6 linked regions of the Homo sapiens genome follow. The protein of the gene in region 2 interacts with the protein of the main gene of each other region in a pairwise test. Each region holds a gene or a part of one and is shown on either strand. Other genes may lie near its edges. The genes, in order: C22orf23, ESRRG, PROX1, CCDC33, TULP3 and ARHGEF15.

Region 1 (3,500 bases), on a different chromosome or scaffold from region 2:
CCAGTCAGATGGTCCTTTTTTTTTTATTTTTCCAGAACTCAGGATTAACTGAAATCTACCACTTCCTGATGATAGGGGCTATCAGGGCTCAATGCCACAGCCTAACCTCTCCCTGCAGCCCCTATACATAAGTTGCCACTACAGGCATCGCCGAGGCCCCAGGTTCCTGAGCTTTCTTAGCCTTGCTCTGCTAAGTTTTGACAAAACTTTTTTTTTTTTTTTTTTTTTAAAGACAGAGCCTTACTCTGTGCCCAGGTTGGAGTGCAGTGGTGCTATCTCGGCTCACTGTAACCTCCGCCTCCCGGGTTCAAGCAATTCTCATGTGTCAGCCTCCTGAGTAGCTGGGATTACAAGTGTCCACCACCATGTCCAGTTAATTTTTTTAGTAGAGATGGGGATTCACCATGTTGGCCAGGCTGGTCTTGAACTCCTGGCCTCAAGTGATCCGCCCACCCTGGCCTCCCAAAGTGTTGGGATTACAGGCACAAACGACCGCTCCCGGCCTTTTTTTTTTTTTTTTTTTGAGACAGTGTCGCTCTCATTCTGTCACCCATTCTGTAATACAGTGGCATGATCATAGCTCACTGCAGCCAGAACTCCTGAGCTCAAGCAATCCTCCTGCCTCAGTCTCCAGAATAGCTGGGACCACAGGTGTTCCCCACACCCAGCTTTTTTTGAGACGGAGTCTCGCGCTGTCACCCAGGCTGGAGTACAGTGGCACGATCTCGGCTCACTGCAACCTCCACCTCCTGGGTTCAGGCAATTCTCATGCCTCAGCCTCCCAAGTAGCTAGGATTACAGGCACCATCACCATGCCCTGCCCAGCTAATTTTTTTTTTTTTTGAGACTGAGTCTTGCTCTGTCGCCCAGGCTGGAGTGCAGTGGCACCATCTCGGCTCACTGCAAGCTCCACCTCCCAGGTTCACGCCATTCTCCTGCCTCAGCCTCCCGAGTAGCTGGGACTACAGGCACCTGCCATCACGCCGGGCTAATTTTTTTGTATTTTTAGTAGAGGTGGGGTCTCACCGTGTTAGCCAGGATGGTCTTGATCTCCTGACCTCGTGATCCGCCCACCTCGGCCTCCCAAAGTGCTGGGATTACAGGCATGAGCTACCGCGCCCGGCCCATGCCCAGCTAATTTTTTGTATTTTTAGTAGAGATGGGGTTTCACCATGTTGGCTGGGCTGGTCTCGAACTCCTGACCTCATGATTTGCCTGCCTCAGCCTCCCAAAGTGCTAGGATTACAGGTGTGAGCCACCGTGCCTGGACTTTTTTTTTTTTTTTTTTTTTAGAGATAGGATATCGGTCAGGCGTGATGGCTCATGCCTGTAATTCCAGCACTTTGGGAGGCCGAGGCTGGCAGATCGTTTGAGCTCATGTGTTTGAGACCAGCCTGGGCAACATGGCAAAACTCCATCTCTACTAAAAAAAAAAAAATACAAAAATTAGCTGGGCACGATGACGTCCACCTGTAGTCCCAGCTACTCGGGAGGCTGAGGTGGGAGGATGACTTGAGCCCGAGAGGTTGCAGTGAGCCGAAATTGTATCACTGCACTCCAGTCTGGGCGACAGAGTCAGACCTTGTCTCAAAAAAAAAAAAAAAAAAGAAGAAAAAAAGAGATGGGGGTCTCACTACATCCATTAGGCTGGTCTTGAACTCCTGGTCCTAAGCAATCCTCCCACCTCAGCCTCCCAAAGTGTTGGAATTACAGACCATACCCAAACTCTTTTCTTGGTTCTTTCCACCTCTTCCTGCCTCTCTTGACAGTACAGTATTGCTCAGGAGAACCCAGGGTAGCAGCAGGTGTACGGAAGCCCTGTCTGCATGACCAGGCACCCTGCAGCAAGCACGTGCACTTGGGAACACAGACCATGAATAAGGGCACCCTTTACAGCCTAACTAGGCCATTTCTTTTTGGCCCTACAGGGGATTTGGAGAAGGAGAAACAAAGACTCCAAAATATCTTTGCCACAGGGAAGGACATGGAGGAACGGAAAAGAAAGGCCCCTCCTGCACGACAGAAGGCTCCAGCCCCTGAGCTAGACCGATTTGAAGAGCGTAAGACTCCGACGGACCAGTCATGCTGGGGGTGGGGGTAATGTGAGGAGGGGGCCCAGAATTGGATGGAGCAGTCAGGGGATCCCTGAGGGCCAAGGGCCAACAAGTGAGAAACACTATTTATTTATTTATTTATTTATTTTGAGACAGTCTTGCTCTTATTGCCCAGGCTAGAGTGCAGTGGCGTGATCTGGGCTCACTGCAGCCTCCACTTCCCAGGTTCAAGCAATCCCTCCTGCCTCAGCCACCTGAGTAGCTGGGATTACCAGCGCCCGCCACCATGCCTGGCTAATTTTTGTATTTTTAGTAGACACGGGGTTTCACCATGTTGGTCAGGCTGGTCTCGAACTCCTGACCTCGTGATCCACCTGCCTTGGCCTCCCAAAGTGCTGGGATTATAGGCGTGAGCCACCGCGCCCGGCCTAGAAACACTATTTGACAATAGAACCACTTCCTCTCCTCAAGAGAGGCAACCCGCTGCCTGCATCCCTCATGGGAACCTGACAGCCCTCTCCTCTGTCCAGTGGTGAAGGAAATCCAGGAGAGGAAAGAATTCCTGGCTGACATGGAGGCCCTGGGACAGGGCAAACAGTACCGAGGAATCATCCTTGCTGAAATCTCCCAGGTAGGAGAAACAACCAGGAAAGTGGGGAGGGGAAGGGCCCAGCGCCAAGTGCGAATGGAAATACAGGGTCTGCTGTGGCAGGGTTCAGGGGTCAGGCTCTAGCTCACTGCTGTGACAGCTCCTCAGGTTCCTAGCCCTGATACACCTGCTTTCCCTGATGCCCTTTGCAGAAACTCCGGGAAATGGAAGACATTGACCACAGAAGGAGTGAGGAACTTAGGAAGGGTCTTGCCACCACTTAATCTGTCTCCAGAGACGGGCAGGGTAGCCCAAGCTCGACCACTGGAGTCCACTCCTCTGCCAGGCAGGGCCATCCTCAGGCCAGCCCATCCTACCAGCCTTCTGCCACGTCAGGTGGTGGCATAGCACTGCCCTGCAGTACCCCAAGGCATACTCAGCAGCCTAGCCCCTGCCCCGGAATGCAGATGGAGCCTCTGAGACTCACAGCCCCGTCCGCAGAGAAGCAAAGCCCGAGCATCCCTACTAGGACATGTGTCTAAAGGTATCCACTGGGCCTGCTTCCCACCACTTCTGACCTGTGGCCTGTTCATTTAGTTTTCTGAATTCAGGAATGAATATGATTCCTTTCTTCCTGTTTTAGGATTTACTTATTTGATTTCTTACCGCCTTAGGCAAGTATTCAACCACAATGATTAACTGGCCAATAAAACATATTTAACGTGGGTCATTACAAGCACCATTTTGTTTTCAGAGGGATAAGCTTATTTGTTCAAGGCATTAGACTTTGTCAAGCCCAGATGGTTTCTAGCTACCTGTTTGCATATTTCAAGTGGCAACGGGAACCAACCTCTTGG
Region 2 (3,500 bases):
GGTACACATCACAAAAATATACAATTGATTGCTTTACAGATGTGAAGCCCATCTACAGCTATAGACATGGTTTTATTATTATTATTATTATTTTTACTACTGGCTATAATGCAACTCCTGGATTATTATAAGCAGTTTAAATTTTTTGTCCTTTTACGATCTTTGCACATAAGACTGCCATAAAATGTTTTCCTAGGCAGGTAAACAGAGACGCTTAAATAATTAAAATACAATCACCAACACCCATTTTCTCTTCTATAAGAAAAATAGCAGTTTTAAATTTTTTATATCTTTTATGTTATCATTTAAATGCAAAATAGTGGAATAAATACAACAATCTGATCTGATTGAAACACAAGTGTAACTACAAGGAGTCACACAATCATATTGCTTTAAATAAGAACGAACCTAAAAGAAGCAAAATTAAAATTAAAATCATATGGCTAAAACATACACCTTTATAACTTTCCAAAACTTCACATTAAGTAAATGGTCTTGCTTGAAACTTGAGAAGACTTCCCTCTAGTGAGGTTTAAGATGAGCATTTACCCTAAAGCCCGTGCAGTTCTTTTTAAATCCACGTTTTAGTTTTATTTCCTATTTGTGAGATACTTACTCTTTTGTAATGCTGAGAGTTACTTAAACTGAAAACTAAAAAATTGTATCTCATTCTTTGAACATATCTCCATCTCAGGTTTTCAGTTGGTTGGCTCTTACTTCTGAAGCCCAAGTACTTTAATGTGATACAGTGAAAACAATGTATATATTGTATATATTTTATTTATATATAGTGTAGTTGAATAGTAGCAACTTAAACCCTGCACAAACTTTCTGGAAAATAATCTTTTTAAACACTTACATATATAAATAATCTTATAGAATCAGCACCTTTTTTCCCAGGAGTTGTATTTTCTGTTGTTATTTTTAAAGGGATGTGCCAATTTCTGAACTCCTATCACAGCTATAAATTTCAAGTTATTGACCATCTGAATGAATTGCTAATGATGATTTATCTAGAATCACACTACAGTCACTTCTCTACTGAGAAACCACAATCTACAATATAGTCCCATATAGCTAATGATAGATACACAGTATTCCTAGCACTGGGTTGATGTTTCATCAACCCAAGGTATTTTGTTTAAAGCACACAAAGTAGCAATAGTTTTGGAAACGAATCTGCACCAAAAAGTTTTGCAACAACACAGAGCGAGTTAATAACAACATCTGAGAGATGATTGAGTGAAAGCCATATATACAGCATTTAAAAATTAGACTTATCTATATTCTTGAAATATTCAAAGTTTTATTTCTAAGCTATACATTGGTATTCTATAATAAACCATTAGAGAAATTATTCCTTGTTTTGAAAATATTATTATGATTTTGATGTGTATCTGTTCATAATGAATACTTGTTTGGAGTTTCAATCTCTTAATTATTATTAGGAAGAACCTTATTACTGGTAAGGAATAGAATATACTACTGTAGTCTCCTGAGGAATTGTACATCCAATATTGTCTCTAATTCTACCCTGTGTCTAAAAGCACACACCACAAGAATCCAAACACCACAAGAACAAGACAACAGTCTTTGAATGCAACATAAAATTCAGAAAAGCACAGCAAACATGAAACATTGAAAAGCTGAACTACATTTCTTTTGTTTGTTAGGATTACAATTTTAATTACATCTGTGTACATAGAATAAGACTGTTCACATAATACAGGGAGCAGCTACTAACACTGGTCCATTGGTATAGCATTTGATGGAGGTTACTGTTTATTGGTTATTCAGCGACTGTAGATTTCGGGGCATCTAATTGATTTCTTCATTAGATTACACCTCTTAACAGTCTGGAACCTGACTTGACTTTCATGCTGTGACAATACTGGTTGAAAAGCACATATATTGGCTTAGCTCTTGGTAAAAACTGCAGATTAATTTAAACGAACATTCCTAAATGAATAAACTTATATGGATTAGGTTTTAGAATTTGGTCAGGCATTTTCTGTCTTTGATGATTTTTTTTTTTAATTCTGGCATTTGCCTTATTGCCTCTTAAATGAATACTGGCTCACAGCTCCTTCTGAGGCAAGGTCTGTGACTTTGCAAACAGGCAGTATCACATTCCTAACCACCATGGCAGCTAGAAATCATATGGCAATTGTACCTCCCAAGTAGAGAGGTGCACTCCTGACAATTCTACGGATCTATATCTCATGTGCAGTGCTTATATATGTGACTACTCAGAGTCACTGTAGGTGTAATCTCATCCTTTGTGTCAGTGAACATTTAGGTAAACTGGAGCTCATGTTAAGAAATTGATGTTTGGGACCAGACTGGCACACAACATAAATTGCATCCGTGATAATATGCACCTTCCCTTCAACTATTGCTTGAGTAAGTTAAATTCCCATATTAATAAATGGCTGAAAAGTGGTAAAGCTGGTACAAAAAAATCTCCATTTGTAAGAAGAAACAAAACATTTTTAAAAATCTTCCTTCAGGATTCATTTGTCCTTCATTATTGTTCGTAATTGTTCAAAGCCAGCACAAAATTGCAGTATTCTTATTTCTCTTTAGTATTGCATGAATGAATAAAGCTTAAACTATTCCCTGAAAAAGTTACATAGTAGCTAAACTAACAAATACCTGGAAGACTTGAAAAAACAATTAAGGAATCAAATGGCTGTAACTGATCTAGATGGAAAAGCAATGATAAGAAGCAGCCGATGCAACGTTGCTTAAGTTGTCTAATTAGAGGCTGCTCCCATGAAATCTAATACTGCACTCAGTCAATTTGTATATGTTGCACTGTACTTTTAGGAACGTTGGTTCTCTCTCTTTGATTCCTTAGTCATTGGGGACAGTATGGTTCACAATAAGTTCACTGGCATCCATATTATGGATCTCCATCCTTTGGCAGGGCTGGCTTCCATCTCTCTTCAGTTAGAGACCTCTTTTAAAAGTTCAGCAGCAGAAGGAAGAAAAAGAAAGATGGAAAGAAGGTCAAGAGGAAAGGAAAGGAAAGGGAAAAGGAAAGGGAAAAAGGAAAGAAAGGGAAAGGAAAGGGGGAAGGGAGGATTTTTTTTTAAACTAAAGCTATTTCAAATTTAGAAAAAAGGGGAAGGATGAGAAAAGAGAGGAATGAGAGTAGGTAAAGAAAAGAAAGAAGGCAGGCAGACGGGAAGAAAATAAAGGAGAATGGGAACTAGGAATGAAAGAAGCAAAGAAATAAGGGAGGTGAAAGAAGAAAAGGAGAAAAAATAAAGAGAAAGAGAAATGTGGGAAGAAAGAGGAAAGAAGATGATGGAGAAAGTAGAAAGAAACTCATCAGGAACCTATGGAGGAATCTGAAAGCTGCTTCATAGTCTTGCTGCTAAATTATCAGTGCAGTCTGTTGATTTTTGATGTTGTTAACTAAACTCTAAGTTTCTTCGACATCACTCTTGGGTTTATTTTCCCTTTTTCAACATGAAGGATGGGAAGGCCCAGGG
Region 3 (3,500 bases), 2.5 Mb from region 2:
TTCCCTTTTCTGTGGCCAAATGAGTCTTCCACACAAGCTGAAAAGCCAGGGAATGGGGAAAAAATGGCAGTGGGTCAGAGCCTCATGATTCCAATGGGGACTATGGAAGCTCCTCATCACAGCTCTACCTGTTACTCTATTGGGGGATGCTTGTATGCGAAACCAACACAAAAACAGATTTGGGTACATTTCTAAAGAAAATAAATTTTTTAAAAAAGGAAAAGGGAGATGACCAAAAAATAAAGATTAGTTCCTACCTCAAAGTCATTTGCTTTATTGTAGTGCATGTTCAGAGCCCTGTACAGCTCACAGTCTCTGGTTATAGACAGCTCTTCAGTACTGGTGACCCCATCGTTGATGGCTTGACGTGCGTACTTCTCCATCTGAATGTAGTAAAACTCACGGAAATTGCTAAACCACTTGATGAGCTGAGAGGTAATGCATCTGTTGAACTGTTAAATTTAAATGTTGAAAAGGATAAGAACATTGCCATTTTCTTCATTTATTTTTTTAAGTGTCTGAAGCATTTTTAATGTTCCCGTCCCTTCTTTACTTGGAAAGATACGTATTTAACTCCACCAAAATGGTGGCAAGAGAGGCAAGAGGAAGAATATACTTACAAGAAATTATAAAAACCTGTCAGTAATGGAAATCATATCACAACCCTCTACCTTTCAAGTGGAAAAGTCACATTCTAAATCAGACTTTCCTTAAGCCGAACATCTTTATTTTTAACCATTGTTCTTCATCTTTCAGTAGAACAACTTGCATTTATATACTTCTTATGGACATTCATTGAAGCCATAGAATCCTGGAAGTGTTGTTACTCCCATGTACCAGAGGTGATGTGCCACATGACTCTACCACTAGTTTGATATACTTTTTTTTTTTAAGTGAGGATTTGTATCACCGCATTACAGCCCCCTTCAATGCAGACAAATGGCCTTCCCACAAAATGGGAGGAGTTGGCATTTGCTTATTTTTTTGGCAATGAGTGATTCCCATGTCCATCCAACTGTGATTCCACTTAATGTTTGCCCACGGCATTCATGTCTGGTGAGGTCTGGTCAGCTCCTGGTGCCTGTTCACCTGCTTCCTGAAGCCAGCATTGGATAAGACCCATGTCCCCCTCCCTTGGTATCTCTGCCATTTGGGAGGCATGGTTAGGACACAGTACACAGATGGCATAGACAGGAGCTTTATTACATTTTTTTAAATGCCAAGTTACTATAACATGGTTAGGCCTTAAAACTTTGTTTACCAAGGTTTCCTGATGACCTTTGAAATGAAGATGTCTTTCTGGATGCACTGCAAATGATACCATCCTTATTGACAGTCCTCTGCTCACGTAAAGGACAGATGAGTCTCAACTTGCCAAGTCAAAACCAATAAATCCATAGCTCTATATCAGGCGGGCTGACAGACAACCCCCTGCCTTTTGTCATCACAGGCATCCCCTTCCCTGGGCCCCCAGAAAAAGATGTACATTCATCAAAAATCAACAAAGAGCACTTATCAAACACAGGCCATGAGAACATCCAGACTCCAACAAGATGACAGCTAAAGTGTGTATTGGGGCTCTAATTACTACACAGAAAGTTGTTTCTATACTAGCAAAGATAATAAATGAATGAAAATTTATGGCAGAGAATGGAAGTCACAAGGAAACAGAAGCAGAGAGACTGGTGTTTCTCCCAAAAGGCCAACTTGCATCATAATTGCCATGGAGTTGCAAGGGCCCTTACAGATAATTGACCAGAAAATGATTAAGTCATCAGCAAATCGCTTCTGCTTGCAAGAGTTCAAACATGTACTTAACCTATCCAAGAATTATATTTTCACTCTGTGTGTCTGCTCTGTCTCTATTCAGCCTCGCGGGGAACCCGATTAAAAAGACAACTGAAGGACCCCCATTATCTGATCTTCTGGTTGCCGATTTCAATAGAACTTAAACCCATTACGATTTGCTGAACTTGGAGTTCTTTCCATTTTATCTCAGCAGTAAAATACACTGTCCAAATTTCCAGACACTGAGATAAGGACTACAGGCCCCCGTGACGGCTTACTGTTCCTTTTTAATTCTTTTAGAATAAGAAACAAAACATTACAAAATGATAGCAGGCTGTGCACTGGGGAATGAAAATTGCTTTGACATGGAGATTAGGCTTCTGCATTGTTACAAGACATTGTCTCATATGGACAAGAGTACTGTAGAGGAAAAAAATAGAAGGGTATTTTTTTTCTAGAATGGTCACGAATGACCTAATGGGGAGGACAAAAAAGTAAGTGCACTTGCCATTATTTACGAATGGGACATAAAGGGAGATTTAAAGCTTATTGTTGGAGAATGGAAATACCAGAGAGAAAGAATGGACAAAAACAACAGACTCCCCAAACATGAGGCAAGCGAAATGACCAGCCCAACAGCCTAAGGAACAGGGTTTCCCTCCAGGAGAAGTGAACTAAAATTTGTTCAGTTTTAGTCGCCGGCTAAAAGCAAAAGCAAGCCCCCGCTTTTCTAGATATTCACACTGGGGGAGAAAAAGTATTAAACTTTAAAGAGTTAATTTCCCTCATTCTGTAGTGGCTTACAAGAAAAGGATCAATTGTTCTATAAAGGAAAGCTCTGTAGTGTGTTAATGTGTTACTGCAAAAACTAATCGCTACAATAAAGAGGCTGTGTTTCCACAGTGTACGAGTCTCTGTGACTTTGATTAATGCTTCCCACGGGACATCTCAGCCTCAATATGGGCTGAAGAAACTTCCTAAATATTCAATGAGCATGGTCAAAAGATGTATAAAACAAATCAATCTGACACCTTAATCTGGCTAGGCAGCAGTTGACTCAAGGGGTGGAGGGAATGAGATACATCATTTAACACTGCCGGCTTGAAAAGCTGTGAGCGTCTGTTCTTCAAAGCTAAAATGACACTGAATCTGCTGTACTTAGTGGTCTAAGAGTTATTAGTTTGTACATTAAAATCAGCACCCAGTAGTGAACAGGGAGCTGGTGCGGCCCATCGATCCCTGGCAGCTCTCTCACATTTGTCCACTTGTCCTTCTCAAAGGATTTGTAGCCCCGATGAGCTGAGCTTTTTGTTTGGCTAAATGTCATTATGAGGGAATTAAGTTGGCTCTCTGTGAGAACATAGAACTTTGTTTAGATTCTTGCTCTAGGAGTTAAACTAGGTCGGCCCTGGTTTCATCCTTCATATACATCACCCCTGTAGAAGAAGAACTCTCGCCATGCCAACATCTCTGAATTGTATGATTTCCCTCTACCTCTTTCGTTCCAAGGTAATTGAAAAGCATTTACCTCTTACCCAGGTGGAAGTCATTTGTGGAGAGTTAAGCACTGTGTCCATTCCTAAGGAGAAATACAAAGGAGTGGGCACCACTTTGGCATGACTCACCTTCTAGAGCAAGTCAGAGGATTTACCCCATCTAGCTCTATCCTCCAAGTGTGGCTTTGATGGACCATTACGTTATACCATATTCAG
Region 4 (3,500 bases), on a different chromosome or scaffold from region 2:
CCATTTAGACACATGAATAGGTCCCAGAAAGGGCAGCTAGCGTCTACTAAATAACCCTCTTCCAGGGTAGGAGCAAGGTATGGACGGCAGGGGACTGAGTCACAGGTGCCCCAATGCCTGGCAGACAGTCCCAGCCATGTGGACCCTCCTGCACCCAGGAGAATGGGGTGACTCTGGGAGGGACATGGTTTGGGGATCAATCTTGAAAGATCACTCCCAAGCCCCACAGAAGTCAGAACCAACTTCTCTCACCGGACCTGTTGGCCAAGCTCCCATAAGAAGTGGGATGTTCCCATCATTGCAGTCTCTGTTCAGGTGTCCAGGGCACCCTAGCCCTGCAGTGACTGCAACCCATCTCCCCAGGGGCAGGGGCAGACACAGCTGAGCCTTGGGCTGGGCCTGGACAAACCAGGCCCATTAGTGTGACCGTCATCAGCACCCTGCCACTGTGGGGAAGTGGACCTACACTGATATTTCATGATCCTGCATCAATAACTCCTGGAGCCGCAGTGCATTTGTGCTGACCTTTTCGAGCAATGACTGATTCCTGTGGGGGAGCAGGAGGTGGGAGCGGCTGCTACTGTTGCTGACAGCCCCTGGCTGGGGAACAGAGGCAAGGCAGCCACTTGGTGGGTCTGTAGCAACGACCCGCAGCCCCGCCCTGTGCTGGGACCCTGCAGGGCTGCCTGCTGGGAGTTATGGGCCGATGGCCATCTCCCATCTCCCACCTTCTGGCCTTGGCAGATGCTGGGCCTCCCCCTGGAGTCTCTCCTCATTTCAGGCGTCCTCTGCACAGGGTGTGCTCAGTGCCACTCCACATTTTTGATTGTGCTGTTTTCCCATCCTGAAGACCTTTATCCCTCTCTTCACCCAGCCAGACCTTCCTTCAGAGCCTTTCTCTGGTTCTGCTTCCTTTAAGGAGGCTTTTCTGACCACCCATGGGAATATTTCATATAGCTCTCTTATTGGGCAGTGCTACAGTTAATACTGTCTTGTTTCATTGTTTAAATCATACCCATGTGTGTGCCCTAACTGCTGACCTAGGGTGCCATCAAGTCCCCCGAGTGCCCACTGGCCCACACTGCGGGCACACGGAGCCTCTGTAGTCTGCAGAGATGTCTTGGCCTCTGCAAGGGGCTGGGGAAACTGTGTGGGAAAGAGAGGGGCTGGTGACACAGACAGAGGTCATGTCTAACTTGGCATCTGTGACACCACCAGCCATGGGTGTGAACACAGATACAACACTTTAGGAAAACAGTTTACCAATAATGAATGAGGTGTCCTAAAATACACATGTCCTATAACCCAGCAATTCCATTTTAGGTAGTTGTACTAAGGAAGTAATTTGCGACATGAAGATATGTAGCAGAGAACGTTCAATGCAGTGTTATTACAGGGAAAAATGGGAAGGAAGAAATCAGGGCACTTGGACATGAACTTCATATCCTGAAGTTACTCAAGTCATGGGTAATGAGCTTTCTGTGACTTTGGATCTGCTTAGGTTTTACTGGCAAATGAAAAATGCAGGATGCTAGAATGGTGATTATACACAAAATATACACAGAAAAAAACTAGGAAGAAGCACAGTTTTATGAATTATTGTGTTTATCATAGGAACACAGGAGCTGTTTTTCTTCTTCCTATTTTTCTGCATTTTCCTAAATGTATTTATTAGGTGTGTGCTGCATTTATTTGTTTATTTATTTATTTATTTATTTTATTTATTTAGAGACGGAGTTTCGCTCTGTCACCCAGGCTGGAGTACAGTGGCGCAATCTCATCTCAGGGCAACCTCTGCCCCCCCGGGTTCAAGCAGTTCTCCTGCCTCAGCCTCCTGGGTAGCTGGGATTACAGGAGTCCCCCACCACACCTAGCTAATTTTTGTATTTTTAGTAGAGACAGGGTTTTGCCATGTTGGCCAGGCTGGTCTTGAACTCCTGACCTCAAGTGATCCACTTGCCTTGGCCTCCCGAAGTGCTGGAATTACAGGCGTGAGCCACTGTGCCCAGCCAGCTTGCTTTTATAGTTGGGAGAAACATTTGTGACAAATCTAGATACACAAAACCAAATATCTGTGTATGCCTTGATTTGGGAGAAGCTGTGGCCCCCACCACCTGCTCCTACCCTCTCCCTCCAGCTGTCCAAGCCTGGGGGACCCCCAGAGCAGCCCCTGTGGAATCAGTCCTTCCTCTTCCAAGGCCGAGATGGAGCTACCAGCTTCTCAGAAGACACAGCCCTGGTGCTGGAGTACTACTCCTCAACTTCAAGTACGTGACCCCTGGTGCCTCGCCAGGGCAGCCATGCCTCAGGAGATCTGTATTATGAAAGGGTGTTCAGACCATCCCACCTCTGCCTCCCACAGGGATGGATGGTTCCCAGGTGTCCAGGCGGCTTCCTAATGCAGGCAGAGGAGAGCTGGCTGCGTTCCTTGTCCACAGGCCAGGACACGTGGGCCTGTCCCATACTAGGTCTTGGCCCCAAGCTTTGTTTTATTGCACCCATCAGTGATGGGGGAGGGCTGGAGCCCTCGGAACTCACAGAGAGGGGTGAGGGAGATGGGCTTCAGAGACCAGCTGATCCACAGTTTTCTGCACTGTGGGATTGAAGCCCCCAAAGGGTAGAGATGAGGCTGATGTATATAAATTCCCAGACACACAGAGTATGTTTAGAGTTGGCTTTGAGTTCACAAAGCCCTGAAGATGAGAAGAGGATGTATGTGCAGGGAAAGGCCAGGAGGCAGGAAAGCAGGCAGCGGGAGACAGGAGGACTGGATGTCAGGTATTAAAGGATGGGGCCGAGGTGGGGGCTTTGGCAGGAGCCCTAGTTGATCCTTCCCCCACAGTGAAAGGCAGCCAGCCGTGGACCCTCAACCAGCCCCTGGGCATCTCTGTGTTGCCGCTAAAGAGCCGTTTGTACCAGAAGATGCTGACAGGGAAAGGCTTGGACGGGCTTCACGTGGAGCGGCTCCCCATCATGGTGAGCCCCCTGCCCTGAACTGGGCCCCTAGCGTGCCCACCTGGCCCCACCCTGCCTCACCCTGCCCCACCTCACCACACCTCCATAGGAGAATTTGGCTTCTCCAGAAGCTTCTGTCAAGGCACCCACCAGGGAAGTCACCCAGTCTAGAAGTGAGGAGCTCCCTGGAACCCCAGAAGCCAGTCTTGCCTCTGGGACTATGACGAACCAAGCCAGAGAAATTGCCCCTGAGCAACTTGGGAGACAAGTACAGGGTGACCCTGTGAGACAGTGCAAGAGTTCAGGCTTTCAGCCAGCCAGACCCTGATTTGAACCACAGTTCAAATCCTCACTGTGGAAATTCAGGCACATTACTGAACCACAAGAGTCCTCGTCTGTAACACAGGAGAAGCATGCCAAGTACACAATCTCTGTGTATAACAAGAGAGTTCAGAGCTCAGGCTCTAGAGCCAGACTGTCTGGGTCCAAATTCTGGTTCCACCACATACCAGCTAACATGACCATGGGAAAACTACTGAAAGTGT
Region 5 (2,874 bases), on a different chromosome or scaffold from region 2:
CTTAGGAGGGTCGAGGCTGCAGTGAGCCGTGATCACACCATGCACTCTAGCCTGGGCGACAGCATGAGACCCTGTTTAAAAAATAATAATAATCGGCCAGGCGTGGTGGCTCACGCCTGTAATCCCAGCACTTTGGGAGGCCGAGGCCGGTGGATCACCTGAAGTCAGGAGGTGGAGACCAGCCTGGCCAACATGGCAAAAACCCGTCTCTACTAAAAATACAAAAAAAATTAGCCAGGCGTGGTGGCAGGCACCTGTAATCCCAGCTACTCGGGAGGCTGAGGCAGGAGAATCGCTTGAACCCAGGAGGCAGAGGTTGCAATGAGCCAAGATTGTGCCACTGCACTCCAGCCTGGGTGACAGAGCAAGACGCCATCTCAAAATAAAATAAGAATAATCTGCTTGGCTTGACAGGCATTTTTAATACCTAGTGCAGGCCTTATTTAACCACAACTAATTTTCACTGTATGTAATATAGTGCTATGCCCTCACTGGGAAATAAATATGTGTTGGTGCTGACAAAGTTGAACAGTTTGTTCACAGTTATCTCAAATCACATTTAAGACTCAAGAGTAAGAGGCCGGGCGTGGTGGCTCACTCCTGTAGTCACAGCACCTTGGGAGGCCAAGATGGGCGGATCACCTGAGGTCGGGAATTCGAGACCAACATGGAGAAACCCCGTCTCGACTAAAAAAAAAAAAAAAATACAAAATTAGCCGGGTGTGGTGGCGCATGCCTATAATCCCAGCTACTCAGGCTGAGGCAGGAAAATTGCTTGAACCCGGGAGGCGGAGGTTGTGGTGAGCTGAGATTGTGCCATTATACTCCAGCCTGGGCAACAAGAGTGAAACTCTGGTCCCAAAAAAAAAATAGTTAAGAGTAAACTCTCAAGCCAAGAGATTCTGTTTTAAATGTAGGTGTTTAAAGAAGGTATAGGCCAGGTGCAGTGGCTCACGCCTGTAATCCCAGCACTTTGGGAGGCTGAGGCAGGCAGATCACGAGGTCAGGAGATCGAGACCATCCTAGCCAACTTGGTGAAACCCCGTCTCTACTAAAAATACAAAAAATAATTAGCCAGGCGTGGTGGCATGCGCCTGTAGTCCCAGGCTGAGGCACAGGAATCGCTTGAACCCAGGAGGTGGAGATTGGAGGTTGCAGTGAGCTGAGATTGTGCCACTGCACTCCAGCCTGGCGACAGAGCGTGACTCTGTCTCAAAAAAAAAAAGAGAAGTATAAAGAGATATAATATTACTTTCCTGTTTTTGATTCTGTTTACAGCAAAGTAATAAAATTATTTTTGGTACACCTGATTTTTTTTTTTTTTTTTTTTTTTTTTTTTTTCTGAGGCAGAGTCTCACTCTTGTCGCCCAGGCTGGAGTGCAACGGCGTGATCTCGGCTCACTGCAGCCTCTGCCTCCTGGGTTCAAGCAATTCTCCTGCCTCAGCCTCCCGAGTAGCTGGGATTACAGGCGCCTGCCACCACGCCTGGCTAATTTTTGTATTTTTAGTAGAGACAGGGTTTCACCATGTTGGCCAGGCTGGTCTCAAACTCCTGACCTCAGGTTATCTGCCCACCTCGGCCTCCCAAAGTGCTGGGATTATAGGCGTGATCCACTGCCCCGGCTGATACAGCTGATATTGTCAGCATCTTACATTCCCAAGAAAGTCTCATGTTATAAAAGAATGTGGTCTCTATTTTTTTCCTGTTTCCAAGTTCTGCTTTGTTTTCCTATCTTCCAGGAAACAAACGTACTTGGATTTAAAGGTCCTAGGAAAATGTCTGTGATCATTCCTGGAATGACACTGAATCATAAGCAGATCCCCTATCAGCCACAAAACGTGAGTAAGAATGTATTTAAATCAGTGAAAGACTCTAAAAGACAGTAGTACAATACACAGAGATTAATACAAAAAAAAAAAAAAAGATTGAGCTTCCAGAGCCCCACACTGGAGATAGCTCCATACACTTCTTTAGGAAAGCTGCCCCTCCAAAACCTCAGGATAAGAGCAGTTGCAGAGTCATTGCCTTGAAACCATTTTTTCTACAAAGAGAAATGCTGGATGATGTAGAATAATTTTAAAAAAAACCTGTCTTCATTGTTGGCTTTCATTCTTCGCTTCTGGTTTACCCTTTCTGAAATGGAGAAAGTATTCTCCTACTCTACCTTCTACCTCGTAGAGTTGGAGTTCTCAGTACAAAGTAATGATTTTCCCTTTGGACAGAACCATGACAGTTTGCTCTCAAGGTGGCAGAACAGAACTATGGAAAATCTGGTTGAGCTGCACAACAAGGCCCCCGTCTGGAACAGTGACACTCAGTCCTATGTCCTCAACTTCCGTGGCCGGGTCACTCAGGCGTCTGTGAAGAACTTCCAGATAGTCCACAAAAATGACCGTAAGCCTCCAGGAGGGGTTGGGTGGGAAGAGGAGGACAGATGCTCTTACAGGATGGGAATGCACATTCCCTGTACATGATAGGAAGTGACAGTCAGCAGATAATCATGGAGGAGAGACAGGATTTCTTTGGAAAGATGAAACTACAGTTTTAGAGAAAACTTGTAAATCACTGTGTTGAGGAGGGGAGAGGAGTGTGAGAGAGATGCTATAGCAAATCAGAGAAGTTGGCTGGGCACCATGGCTCACGTCTGTAATCCCAGCACTTTGGGAGGCCGAGGTGGGCAGATCGCTTGAGACCAGCCTGGGCAACATGGTGTGAAACCCCATCTCTACAAAAAATAGAAAAATTAGCTGGGCGTGGTGGCAGGCACTTGTAGTCCCAGCTACCCGGGAGGCTGAGGTGGGAGCATCACTTGAGCCAGGAGGTCGAGGCTGCAGTGAGCTGAGATTGCATCACTGCTCTCCAGCCTGGGTGAC
Region 6 (2,771 bases), on a different chromosome or scaffold from region 2:
ATTATAAAGTACATGTGAAGGTTATGAGTGTTATGGAAAAAAAAAAAAGTGAGCAGAGCAAAGAAGGTCAGGAGTTCCAGGGTTGGGCAGACTGAAATTTTCAATAGGGAGGCCGAGGTGGACCTCACTGAGAAGGCAACATGAAGCTTGATGGAGCTAATTTAGGCCCATGGTGTCTGGGGGAAGAGTGTCCCAGCTGGAGGCAGCAGGCAGTGCAAAGGCCCTGCGGCTGGTGTGTGACTGAGGAACTGTAAGGAGGCCAGTGTGACTAGCAGGAGAGAGAAAGGGGGAGAAGCAAATGAGGTCATAGAAGTGGCAGGGATGGGATCACGCAGGACCTGACAGGTCTCTGCAAGGACTCCACCTCTTACTCCAAGAGACATGAGCAGCCACTGCAGGGCTTGACGGAAGAGCAGCCCAGACTCTCTCCGAGCTGCTGTCACCTCCACTTCTGATGCCCTTTCTACCGATGCTCCAGGCTTGTCCATGAATTCCCACACCTACAATGACCCTGAAGGCCTGAGACCCCACGAGGCCCCCTTTGCCTCCTCACCTGCTCCCTGCCCCCACCTCATTGGAGCCTCTGTCTCTCTTCCCCCAGGTTGGCTGAAGGGGCTTCCTGGGGCCTTCCCTGCCCAGCTGGTGTGTGAAGTCACAGGGGAACACGAAAGGAGGAGGCACCTTCGCCAGAACCAGAGGCTTCTCGAGGCTGTTGGATCTTCTTCAGGCACCCCCAATGCCCCCCCACCCTAATGCAGGCTGAGGAGGGGGCACATGTTGGGAGACACCTACCAGTGTGGCACGGAGAGAACAAAGCCCATTCATCCATTGGATTCACTGTCAGTGGAGATACTACCTCTCGTGGCAACCATAGAGATCGAGCTTCAGGACAGAGCAGCCAATGAAAACGGCCGCCTGAACCCACAGCAATAAGAATGAATGAGGATGCCTTGAATGTGTGGCCAATGGAGACAGAGGCTTAGTGCAGAGCAGCCAATGGGTACTGAGCTGGCTGAGCCTATGGCCAATGAGTATTCCTGCTATGCTCAGGGCCAAGGAAGACAAATCTAGGTCATGGCAGTTGAAAAAGGGCCTCATTGGAGATAAAGTCGTAGGATAAAATTGGGAACAGGAATGAGCAGGAAGCCAATCAGCCAAAGAAAATGGTGATCTGGACCCAAGAGACCAGTAGTCACCCTGCTTGTTTCTGCAGCAATGACTGGTCCTGTCTTTTGAGTCTGGGAAATACTAGTTTCCATTCCTGGATGCTTCCTGTGCCCTCTCAAGCCAGTTCTTCTCTTCCAGAAGAATTCAGAGTATGTGTCTCAGAAAATCTGTGTGTGTACATGTGCATGTGTAGATATGTGTGTATATGTATCAGGAAAGGCATTCTGCTGACTGTGGTGTGTGTGTGGTGATTGTGCTCCTGACCCACAAATGACTGAGTGCTCCATTTCTTCCTTTACCCCCCATTTTTCCTATTATTCGCTCCAAGAAAGATGCTAAGTCTGAGCTCCAGAAGAGACTGTGCTGGGTGTGGCTTGGCACCCAGGGGATGAGAGCCCTGAGCTTTGGGTCTCTTGGAGGCTAGGGTTCTGTGGCAGTTGCAGGGCAATGTTATGGAGCAGCCAACGGCCTGGCAGAGGAGCCCAAGGGACTGAAGATGGCCAGTAGCTGGGTCCTGAGGCCCCTGAAGTCTGCAGACCCTTCTCCTTGCCCCAAACACTGGCCTCCATAATTCCTGCCTGCAGATCTCCCAACTTGAACTATAATCCACCAGCCAGCCTCAGCCTTGAGCTTTGGAACCACATTAGATCCTGCATCTGGGTGAAGAAACGGGAGCTGTGGACCACAGGCCAGCCAGTGAACCTCCTGGGCTTTCTTGCCTTTGTCCTGATCCTCTCACAGAAACACTGGGCCAAACAGTGGGGAGAGATTGGAGAGCGGGTGTGGCTGCCCAACCCCATCCAGAGCATCTGCTTCCAGATGAGCCAGTGCCTCGCATGATACCAGAGGAGGCGAGGGACAGAGACAGCAAGGCAGACAGTGGCTGGCAGGGGGGCCCAGGCCCGGGACGAGGCCTCCCCTTCAGCTCAGGCACAGCAACTTGCCCAGGACTGACACTGTCACCCTGACTGCAGGAGGCACAGGGACTCCGGGAGACTCAGAGGGCGAAGAGCACTGGCATTTGGCATGTCCATGACATTGGAGACTCCCCTAGCAGGGTGCCTGACGTGTGGGGAACCCTCAGTAAATAGTGGTGCATTTGTATTGAGGCTCTCTGAGGAAGTGTGTGCTTATAGGAGCAGTGGTCTCCAAGCATGGTTTATAAGGGGATGGGGCTGCTTGGAAAGGGGTCCAGAGCAGGGGTCAATTCTGTTGGGAACTGGGGCTTGAAGGTCATGTGCTAGACCTGAGTGTGTTAGCCCACTCACAGTTCCTGAGGGATCTCAGGTGGTGGTGGTTGTGGCGATGGTGGTGGGTTTGCAACAGCTGTGGTTGGGGGCTGCTGCAGGCTGGGCAATGCCTGGGGCTTTGGCAGGGGATGAGAATGCAGCAAGAAGGATAAAAAGGGCAGTCAGGGCCGGGCACGGTGGCTTGCACCTGTAATCCCAGCACTTTGGGAGGCCGAGGTGGGCAGATCACTTGAGCTCAGGAGTTTGAGACCAGCCTGGGCAGCATAATGAAACCCTGTCTCTACAAAAAATACAAAATTACCCAGGTGTAGTGGCATGCGCCTATAGTCCCAGTTCCTCGGGAGGCTGAGGCAA

What was found.
Region 1: the proteins of ESRRG (region 2) and C22orf23 interact in binary tests that used the Homo sapiens proteins (3 or more experiments, as listed by UniProt).
Region 3: the proteins of ESRRG (region 2) and PROX1 interact in a two-hybrid assay, tested with the Homo sapiens proteins (one study listed by BioGRID).
Region 4: the proteins of ESRRG (region 2) and CCDC33 interact in a two-hybrid assay, tested with the Homo sapiens proteins (one large-scale study listed by BioGRID).
Region 5: the proteins of ESRRG (region 2) and TULP3 interact in a two-hybrid assay, tested with the Homo sapiens proteins (one large-scale study listed by BioGRID and IntAct).
Region 6: the proteins of ESRRG (region 2) and ARHGEF15 interact in a two-hybrid assay, tested with the Homo sapiens proteins (one study listed by BioGRID).

What each region holds. Positions count from the first base shown.
Region 1 is NC_000022.11:37,943,602-37,947,101, reverse strand, and holds part of C22orf23 (UPF0193 protein EVG1), read left to right. Parts: intron 1-1,928; coding exon 1,929-2,060; intron 2,061-2,584; coding exon 2,585-2,685; coding exon of another isoform or gene 2,686-2,787; exon of another isoform or gene 2,788-2,855; coding exon 2,856-2,927; 3' UTR 2,928-3,500.
Region 2 is NC_000001.11:216,503,430-216,506,929, forward strand, and holds part of ESRRG (estrogen-related receptor gamma), read right to left. Parts: 3' UTR 1-3,500. UniProt on the Homo sapiens protein: Orphan receptor that acts as a transcription activator in the absence of bound ligand. Binds specifically to an estrogen response element and activates reporter genes controlled by estrogen response elements.
Region 3 is NC_000001.11:214,008,473-214,011,972, reverse strand, and holds part of PROX1 (prospero homeobox protein 1), read right to left. Parts: intron 453-3,500; coding exon 258-452; intron 1-257. UniProt on the Homo sapiens protein: Transcription factor involved in developmental processes such as cell fate determination, gene transcriptional regulation and progenitor cell regulation in a number of organs.
Region 4 is NC_000015.10:74,277,826-74,281,325, forward strand, and holds part of CCDC33 (coiled-coil domain-containing protein 33), read left to right. Parts: intron 1-1,293; exon of another isoform or gene 1,294-1,467; intron 1,468-2,137; coding exon 2,138-2,267; intron 2,268-2,842; coding exon 2,843-2,976; intron 2,977-3,500.
Region 5 is NC_000012.12:2,935,891-2,938,764, forward strand, and holds part of TULP3 (tubby-related protein 3), read left to right. Parts: intron 1-1,740; coding exon 1,741-1,839; intron 1,840-2,223; coding exon 2,224-2,395; intron 2,396-2,874. UniProt on the Homo sapiens protein: Negative regulator of the Shh signaling transduction pathway: recruited to primary cilia via association with the IFT complex A (IFT-A) and is required for recruitment of G protein-coupled receptor GPR161 to cilia, a promoter of PKA-dependent basal repression machinery in Shh signaling.
Region 6 is NC_000017.11:8,320,241-8,323,011, forward strand, and holds the end of ARHGEF15 (rho guanine nucleotide exchange factor 15), read left to right. Parts: intron 1-601; coding exon 602-753; 3' UTR 754-2,271; downstream 2,272-2,771. UniProt on the Homo sapiens protein: Specific GEF for RhoA activation. Does not activate RAC1 or CDC42. Regulates vascular smooth muscle contractility. Negatively regulates excitatory synapse development by suppressing the synapse-promoting activity of EPHB2.